Linked DNA regions of Homo sapiens. The protein of the gene in region 3 interacts with the protein of the main gene of each other region in a pairwise test. Each region holds a gene or a part of one and is shown on either strand. Other genes may lie near its edges. The genes, in order: EPAS1, PGCKA1 and EIF3E.

Evidence for each region.
Region 1: the proteins of EIF3E (region 3) and EPAS1 interact in binary tests that used the Homo sapiens proteins (3 or more experiments, as listed by UniProt).
Region 2: the proteins of EIF3E (region 3) and PGCKA1 interact in binary tests that used the Homo sapiens proteins (3 or more experiments, as listed by UniProt).

Annotation. Positions count from the first base shown.
Region 1 is NC_000002.12:46,359,756-46,363,415, reverse strand, and holds part of EPAS1 (endothelial PAS domain-containing protein 1), read right to left. Parts: intron 2,779-3,660; coding exon 2,660-2,778; intron 2,532-2,659; coding exon 2,326-2,531; intron 1-2,325.
Region 2 is NC_000004.12:37,587,280-37,590,031, reverse strand, and holds part of PGCKA1 (PDCD10 and GCKIII kinases-associated protein 1), read right to left. Parts: exon of another isoform or gene 1,187-2,752; 5' UTR 1,165-1,186; coding exon 1,133-1,164; intron 1-1,132. UniProt on the Homo sapiens protein: Acts as a tumor suppressor. Acts as a tumor suppressor for colorectal cancer cell proliferation by targeting KEAP1/USP17/ELK1/CDK6 axis.
Region 3 is NC_000008.11:108,200,626-108,203,787, reverse strand, and holds the end of EIF3E (eukaryotic translation initiation factor 3 subunit E), read left to right. Parts: intron 1-284; coding exon 285-387; intron 388-670; coding exon 671-805; intron 806-1,864; coding exon 1,865-1,903; 3' UTR 1,904-2,572; downstream 2,573-3,162. UniProt on the Homo sapiens protein: Component of the eukaryotic translation initiation factor 3 (eIF-3) complex, which is required for several steps in the initiation of protein synthesis.

The DNA.
Region 1 (3,660 bases), on a different chromosome or scaffold from region 3:
AAAAAAATCTCTTTTCTATTATGTAGGGATGCCAAGTTATTTTCTAGGACAGTAGGGTTTTCCCAGTGCTTATGGAGTTATGTTACGGATGTGCTTCATTCACCAGGGTGAAGCACGTATCTGACTTTCATCATCCCCAGCACTATATATGCTCCCAGGCTATATGGCTACGTCGGCTTGAGCCACTTCACCTCAAAGCCAGTGACACAGGGGCTATGCAGTGGGATTGTCCATGTTATCTCACAAGACTACTGAGGTACACAAAGCTGTGTCTTCTGCCCAGAATGTTCACCTGAATACAAAGACTGCATCTGATAAATAACCTTACCTATAACATGGATTCCTGCAGTGCCTGTCACTAAAAGTGCAATCTTCTTCTTGAACCACCATCATTATCACCACCACCACCACCACCACCACCACCACCACCACCACCACTACCACCACCACCACCACCACCACTAACAATTACAATAAATGGTGACTGTGTCGAAGTTCCAGGACGGAAGGCTTCATGCATGACATTTTCTCCCTATGAGGTTAGAGCATTTCTTTCTACTTATATAACTACCCACTAGCTCCAAAGGCTGTGAATCCTGGCCCTACTGTGGTCAGAACTGAAGGACAGGAATGACTCAAGGATACTTTTACAAAAGTTCTGAAATTGTGCCACAAGTGGTGGCCAACTCTAAGAAGGGGCGACCAACCAACACCAGGCCGGTCTGGAATCAGAGGAGAGAAACCCCATCCTGGAGAGGAGGGTCCCTCCCATGAAGAAACCAGATGCCCTTGGGATGTCCAGCTGATAAGAGAAAAGTGGGTAGGCCTAGGGGAGGCTGAGCAGGAGCTTTTTTTCCTGGGGTTCCATGGTTTCCTGCTAGCTGAGGAAGACAAGGCAGATTCTTGCTGATCTGGGGGTCAGATTCTTCCTCTTCCTGCCCCCCAGCCACTAACTGCCTTCAGAAGTGGTTTCAGCTCCTTGAGTTTAGTGGAAGATTTTGCTTTGGAGGAGGCCAAGGACAGGAAGTAAGATATAAGCAATAACAAGAAGCCTCACATGTGTTGTGGTGTCTGGACTTCTCAAAGTGCTTGCACAGCCATTATCTCATTTTACAGTGACCCCATGAAACAGGTTAGAAAGTGTTATCTCTATTTTGGAGAAGGGGAAACTGAGATCTGAGGGTTTCCTGAGGAGAAACCCTAGAAGATGAGAGAAGAGTGGCAAAGAGTTGGGGGTGGCAAAGAGCTGCCACAGGAACTGTCACCCTGGGACACATGGCGGCTCTAGATGCTGCAGAAAGCTGAGGTCAGGCAGGGAGATCTCTGCCAGGAAGGGCGCATGCGGGGGGTGCTGCTCAGCAAGCCCCAGTGGCGCTTACTCAAGCCAGGCCTACCCTGGGCCCAGTCTTCTGCATTTCCTTCCCTCCCTGGGGCCGGCCATTGCTCCGGGCATCTGTTCTCCCCATCTTCCTCCTCCTACCTCCCATCATCAGGCTCCACAGTCCCAGAGGCAGGGCTGGTGGGGGAGTTAGGAGCTGTAGGGTATCTAAATACTCCCTCCTATGACAACCCCAGTCTCTTCCCCACCTGCTTCAATCTTCTAAATGAGCTAAGAACCCGAGATGGCATGACATGCCTAAGCAGTCTTAGGCACTCTTTCAACAACTCTAATAAAGGTGATAATAAGAGCTAACACTGAACATTTATTACTAAATTTGAACCTAAGCCATCTAGTCCTGAAGCCCATGCTCTTAATCACTACTGTGTCTCCTAAGAGACACTGGGCCTGGCACTGGGGGGTTAGCATCTGGCTCAGCTACCTTCATCTTCTTCAAAATGGCTGGACACTGGCCGGAATGGAGTTGCATGCAGGAAGGAACAAGGCGGAGGGAAAGGCTCAGTCAGTAATGGAAGAGGGTCAGTCTCCAGGGCAGAAGCTGATGCTCCTTACTGGCCTCTGAAGCAGGAGTACAGATGGAAGTCTCTAGACTCTTTCTCCTGGGGCAGAAGACTGCCTTGAGAATTTCCTCAGGAGCCTGATACACGTATGGAGAAATATGTTCACACCACAATGATGAGAAGAGTTGCACACCAGGAAAGCTCTGCAGATGGACCCTGAGGCTCTGTCAATGGGAGACCACCAAATACAGTACCGGGAACCTCTGAGGGGCACTGATGCAATGAAACAGTGGCACAGGTCCACGAACATGCACCCGGCAATACCACGTCTATGTTCAGTTCCACACCTTTAATACAGGCACAACTCCCCACACACACAGGTAAGACCCATCTCTGCCCACAGCATACACACCCATGGCCCCCTACCTGTCATCACAGTAGGTGAACTTCATGTCCATGCTGTGGCGGCTCAGGAAGGTCTTGCTATCCAGGGGGATGTCCATGTGGGATGGGTGCTGGATTGGTTCACACATGATGATGAGGCAGGACAGCAGGGGCTCCTTGTAGCCACACAGACTATTGTGAGGAGGGCAGTTGTTGTAGACTTTCACCTGGCCCGTGCAGTGCAAGACCTGAGACAGGCGTGGAAGGGTCAGACATGGAGCCGAGAGTGCTGGGGGTGGGGGTAGGGCCTTAGGCATCCCCTGCACCGCCGTTACCCTACACCTGGGACTCCAACCCAGGCCTGATGTTGCCCTACCTTCCAGGTGGCTGACTTGAGGTTGACAGTACGGCCTCTGTTGGTGACCGTGCACTTCATCCTCATGAAGAAGTCCCGCTCTGTGGACATGTCTTTGCTTTTTTTCCCAAAACCAGAGCCTGGATGTGGAAGGATGGGAAGAACCAGCTGAAGTCAGTTTTATATGGATATTCATGAGAGGGGCCCAGCTGCAGTTTTTCTTGGCAGCCTATTGTTTATATTTTCCAAATATCTGCTCTCTTAGCACCTGTGGTCTGCCATCAACACTGAGCTCCATCATGGCCTGTGAACTAATGGTTCCCACTCTCAAGCTTATCTCCTCAACTGGAGCATAAACTCCCACAAGGGAGGAGCTGCTCCATCATTTGATTTCCCATTGCATCTGGAACATGGTCAGTGGTGCCTTCAGAGCAGCGACACAACGACTGCCTATCAGCCACTAACTCAGCCACCCTTTCCTGGGGCAGGCCCAGGTCTTCTCGCAGAAATTCCAAGGGACAGTCTGAGTGAGGCCACAGTTACTCCAAGGGTGTAAGCCTTCCTCACAGGTTAGAAATGTCTCTCCGACACTCCCGTCTTTCCTTTATAACCTGTCTCTCAGGAGGAATTTAACCCCTCCTGTACCCCATTTGCAAACTGCAATAGCTGTGTTCAGGATACCATGCCATTAGCTTTGTCCCTGAAGTGACATATGTATCAAGGCTCTAGAGAGAACTCTGGTACGAATCTCCTTACAGTGGACTTGGTGAGCAAGTCCACTTTATGGATTAACTCAACCTGGATCATATCCTCTCTCTCAGCAAAAATTAAATCACCAAGACCAGCAATATAGCTTACTTCCTTATAGTTGCCAAACAGCCTCCCGATTCAGAACCATTTTCCACTTTTTGTAAAACAAAGTAATGAAGAGTGCCAGCTGAATCCCACTTGTCTGTGTCTAAATCCTGCCTACACCACCATCTCTGGTACCTACTTTCAAAGATATAATCCTGCCCCCTACC
Region 2 (2,752 bases), on a different chromosome or scaffold from region 3:
CACAGGCCCTGCTTCTTTCTACGATTCCTGCTAATTTAATTTCTGTGATTACTTTTCAACCTAGATAAGTATGTCTAAATCAAATAGATATAGTTGGTATAAAAATGTTTGGTGGCTCACGCCTGTAATCTCAGCAATTTGGGTGGCCAAGGCGGGTGGATCACTTGAGGTCAGGAGTTCGAGACCAGCCTGACCGACATGGTGAAACCCCATCTTTACTAAAAATACAAAAATTAGCTGGGTGAGGTGGTAGGCACCTGTAATCCCAGCTACTCGGGAGGCTGAGATAGGAGAATCGCTTGAACCTGGGAGGCGGAGGCTGCAGTGAGCTGAGATCACGCCCCTGCACTCCAGCCTGGATGACAGAGCGAGACAGTCTTGAAAAAGATAAACAAGGTTCTGCCTGAAATACTCTTAAGAAGAGAGCCAAAAGGAGGAAGGAGGGGTAAGGGGTGAAGTAAAATACAAAGTGGTTCATAGAATTTTAAAATAAAAAACAAATAAAACAAATGTCCACTAACAGGGCCATAAGGAGTATATCCTCTCAGTGGAATATTATGCAGTCACTAAAATGATAAATATGAAGTCTGTAGTCACAGGAATGATACTTACAATACATAGTTTTTGAATAAAGCCAAACATCACAGTATGATTACAGTGGAATACAGCTTATTTATATATAGGTCTAGAATAGAACTATGATTAAAAAGACAGTATATTTGTTAAGAAAGCAAGATCATCAGTTACCCTTTTTCTTAGTTAGAAGTTTATGTTCACGTTACTCACAATTTTCTGAAATGCAATGTGGACAAAATTAAAAGCACATATGTGATTGGGGTGATTTATTTTCAGCGATGCCATTTCAGGCATCCTCAGAAACCCAGACCAAATTCAGCCTCAGAAAATGATGGTGTTCCCAACATGCTTTGAGAAGTGAGCAAAAAAAGTTAAAAAAATCTAGGGCACATGTTCTTTTAAATGATATTATAACAATTCCAAACTCTTAATGTGTTGGCAATGTTGATCATGCCCCAAGCTGGATAAATGCACTGAATACACGCATGGTCTTTAAAAGTGACCCCACGCTCATCACAAATTCCTCCATTTAGAAGTAGTATTTCTCCAGCTTTACCTTTGTATTATTTTACAGCACCTGCACCCCATCTGGATTGTTTTCTGTTACCACCTGGAAAAGAAAGCGTAAAAGGTAGAGAACACAGTGAGTGATATATTAGTAGGAATTAAGTTTGCCTTTTTTTTTCCCTAGAGACTCAAAATGTATTAAGAGAGTCACACATTTTGGCAAAAGGATAACTACCACGTGGGTCAGAGAGGGTGCTGGTTACCAGGAATACCCCATTTCCATCACCGCTTCAGAGTTCTCAAACGTTCACTGACACTTGCCTCTGTGTCAGACCTTTCTCCCAACCCTGGGGTTATGTGTTTCATCCCCATTTTGCAGATGAGGAGAAGAAGGTGGAAGGATGCTAGACAGAGAAGGGACTTCTGCTTTTCTAATCTGTTACCTTCTACAGAGGACACAGGAACCTCACCAGGGCACGGCCCACTGCACGCAGCAGCAGGAGGGGAAGGAGATTCTGACGGATTCCTTGCCAGGGCATTTGCTCCTCAAGAGTTAAAGGATGCCGGAATAAGCTGGCGGATCCATTGTGTCCCATGATTCAGGCCCTGAGGAGCGTGATAGCCCGAGTCATCGCACAAGCTTCAACCACACTAAATTGATTCTGTGTTGCTTTTCCTACCGCTGGGCCAATCTCAGCTATGATTTGTGGACCTGTTCTTTTGCAGCTCAAAGACATGCCCCCTTGGGCTTCCTGGCAGAAGGTGGACTCATTTCCCACTTGCCCACTGTTCCCTGACCCCTCCCCAAGCTGGGCTTTTCCCCATCATTTCCTTTGGAACAAAATCTTCTCTTCATATAAAACTGACCATGTTGGCCTCTTCCTTCCTCAGAACATCCTAAAAATGAGTATGGAAGCATCTCTTAGATATTATTCATTTCTAATATCTACAGCCTTTATTTTTATTTATTATTTTTTTTTGAGACACAGTCTCACTCTGTCGCCCAGGCTGGAGTGCAGTGGCGCAATCTCGGCTCACTGCAACCTCTGCCTCCCAGGTTCAAGCGATTCTCCTGCCTCAGCCTCCCAAGTAGCTGGGTTTACAGGCGGGTGCCACCATGCCTGGCTAATCTTTGTATTTTTAGTAGAGACAGGGTTTTGCCACGTTGGCCATGCTGGTCTCAAACTCCTGACCTCAAGTGATCTGCCTGCCTTGGCCTCTCAAAGGTCTGGGATTACAGGCATGAGCCACTGTGACGGGCCTACAGCCTTTAAAAAGACAAGCCAAAACAGAATCTGCATCCCCAGTCTCCCTGTCTCCATGAAGCACATGCACCAGAAAGAGACATCATTCATTGCTGGCTGTGTCTCTGTCTCCCATGTTGTCCCTCCTTCCTTCTTTCAATCATAGGTGAATTTCCAGGGATGCTGCTTCATAAGCTTTTGTCCACAGTGAATATGACTGGTGCTTTTTAAGAAGTACAGATTGGTTGCTTAGTTAAAAGGGACTAGATTTACATTAAAAAAATAAAATCCACAAATAACTCCCTATGGTAGGCTGAAAAATGGCCCCCAAAGATATCCACATCCTAATCCCTGGAACCTATAAATAATACCTTATATGCCACCCCAGCCCCCAAATTAAAGGTATTTGCAGATGTGATTAAGTG
Region 3 (3,162 bases):
AAAGTACTGTTCTAGAAGCTGAAGGATTTCCGTAAATGCAGAATATGTTACCCTACCCTCAAGGATTTTACAGTCCAGTTGGTGAATGGAATAGGTCGTGCATAGTACAAGTCAATAGGCACAAGCACATGAACAAATCAGACAGTAGGGGTCATGGTATATAAGAGAAGGGTGATCCAGAAATACCAAAAAGTATCTATGCAGAGTGTGAGTCAACACTGTGTACATAAAACTAAGTTTTTAGGCCCAGTTAATTAACATTGCTGTTTTTACTTTTTCATTAGCATGTTGGCAGATAAATTGAACATGACTCCAGAAGAAGCTGAAAGGTGGATTGTAAATTTGATTAGAAATGCAAGACTGGATGCCAAGATTGATTCTAAATTAGTGAGTATTATGTTAGCTATGCTACATACTATCAGTTCCTGATTATACTTTTGGGAATTCTTAACTAGGACATTTTATTACCTCCTTTAATAATTTATTTTGTTTTAATGTAAAACAGTTCTTTGAAGGCAACAGAAGCCTCCTATTTTTTTTCTTCCTTGGTAAATATTGTCATCTCTATACAGTGCATTAAAATATGCGCAAAGGTATGTCATGCTTTTTACTTACCTGAGAAACTCAGTCATTAACATTATAGGATCAATTTCCCTGTGTTTCCTTTTAGGGTCATGTGGTTATGGGTAACAATGCAGTCTCACCCTATCAGCAAGTGATTGAAAAGACCAAAAGCCTTTCCTTTAGAAGCCAGATGTTGGCCATGAATATTGAGAAGAAACTTAATCAGAATAGCAGGTCAGAGGTAAGAACCACACATCTTCTATTCTGTCTGGGGTTTAGCAACCATGTAATTGTTACATGAAGTTTCAAAGTGTATTGATGAGTTGTAGCTGATTTTGTTTTTCTCTTTAAAGATATGAACATTTTTAAGAAATTACTAAACAGAAAATTTTTTCTTAGATGTATTATATGCATTAAACATAGAAACTGAAAAAGAAATTGTGTTCCTAGTTTATTATAACTATTTTTCTTTTGCTTTGACTCTTCCTGTGTGACTTCATTAACTCATTTCCTCAGGGTTTTCAACACATCATTTTGATACTGGCAGATGATAACTTACATGTGTAGCCCTCTTTCAAGTGTTCGAAATGTGTATTCTTTCTAAATCTAAAGAAATAATTCTGTAAAAATGTTGATCTTATTATATGTATTAGTGCTGATCTTATACAAATTTCATTATCTTTCATCTGATATTCATATCAAAAATTAATCTCCCATTTTGATAGAGATCCTGCATGTTAGAGATTGAAGAAACTTGAATGGCCTTATAATTTTGGAATCCTAAACTGTGTTGTTTAGACATTATGATTATGTGTAACTGGAGGGTAGGAAGTCATTAGGAAGCAGTTGTGGGATATGCAGAGACCCCATTTGATTGAAATTTTAGGAACAAATTTGTGTCCGCAGAATAATCCTTTAGTTCAAATGAGAAGGATGCATTAGAATTCAAGTTGCATATTTTAGCCAAGTTTAGAATAACTGAGCCTAGAAAGTAACTTTCATATGATGTTTTTTTCTGTATGCTTTAGGATTAATTTGTATCATTTATTGTTCCAGTATTAATGATACTGTTATTGCTATATATTTTAATTGGCCAAAAGCTATACCAGATAATAATTTTGGTGTTTGTTTTGTCCTGAGTGGGACATCTGACATCTAGTAATTGCAGGAGTTAAGATCTTAGAATGGTTTGGCAAGAGACTATAGTGCTGAAGTAAATGCTGTGTTACTTTCTTCTATGTTAGTTTTTTTCCGAAAGTATTTTCTTTTCACGGTGTTGATTTCTTTTTGCATATTTTAGGCTCCTAACTGGGCAACTCAAGATTCTGGCTTCTACTGAAGAACCATAAAGAAAAGATGAAAAAAAAAACTATCAAAGAAAGATGAAATAATAAAACTATTATATAAAGGGTGACTTACATTTTGGAAACAACATATTACGTATAAATTTTGAAGAATTGGAATAAAATTGATTCATTTTATCTTGCTGTCAGTTTTCTTGCATGTGCAAGTTTGTGTTTTTTTAACTTTCTTTTTTGGAATAATTATATTCAGAGGAATTTGCAAAAATAGTACAGAGAAGTCCCTGTAGGCTGAACCCTGTTTCCCTCAATTTTTTCACTTTGTCTTACTATGGTACAGTATCAAAACCAGGATGTTGACATTGGTACAATGTGTGTACAAATAGCTCCCTACCATTTTATCACGTGTAGATTTGTGTAACCATCACTGCAGCCAAGATAGAGAACTATCATCATGATCTCCCTCATGCTACCTTTTTGTAGCCATACCTACTCCCAACCAACTCTAACCCTAGGAACCACTAATCTGTTCCTCATCGCTATATTTTGTCATTATGAGAATGTTATATAAATGGAATTACATAATACACAACCTTTGAGATTAGCTTTTTTCATTCATCACAATGCTCTTGAGAGCCATCCAAGTTGAGAGATAGATATATATATATATATGATCAGTAGTTAATTCCTTTTTTATTGCCAAATAGTATTCCATGGTATTGATGTGCCACGTGGTTTAACTGGTATTGATGTGCCATGTGGTTTAACCATGTACCTATTGAAGGATATTTTAGTTGTTTCCAGTTTGGTACTATTACAAATAAAACTGTTGTTCCTTAATTTCTTAAAAGTGGCTCCTCAGTCACTCACTGTATAGTTACGGAGACTAGGCATATAAGTTGAATTTTATAAGTGTCAAATGTTAAATACAGACATACTGTTTACTGGATACTGGAGGTATTTAAGAGCTACAGAGCCCTCACTGGGTCCCTTTTTTACATAGAAGTGGCTTGATTTTTCACTTTGGTTGAACTGACAGCCAGTCAGATAACAGAAACTTGTTGCTGCTCTCAAGGAGGAGGTTCAAAGATAAAAAGGTACATACTGTTCTTTTATTTGACATCTGATCAGGCCACCTTCCATACTCAGTTTAGAGACTACGGTAGTTAGGTTGCATCTGCCATTCAAAGAGCATGGAGACCTCCCAATACTAAACAGCATGGGGGTCTACAAACTTTTTTTTGTAAAAGGTCAGATATTAAATCTTAGGCTTTGCAGGCAGTATGTTCTCTGTTTT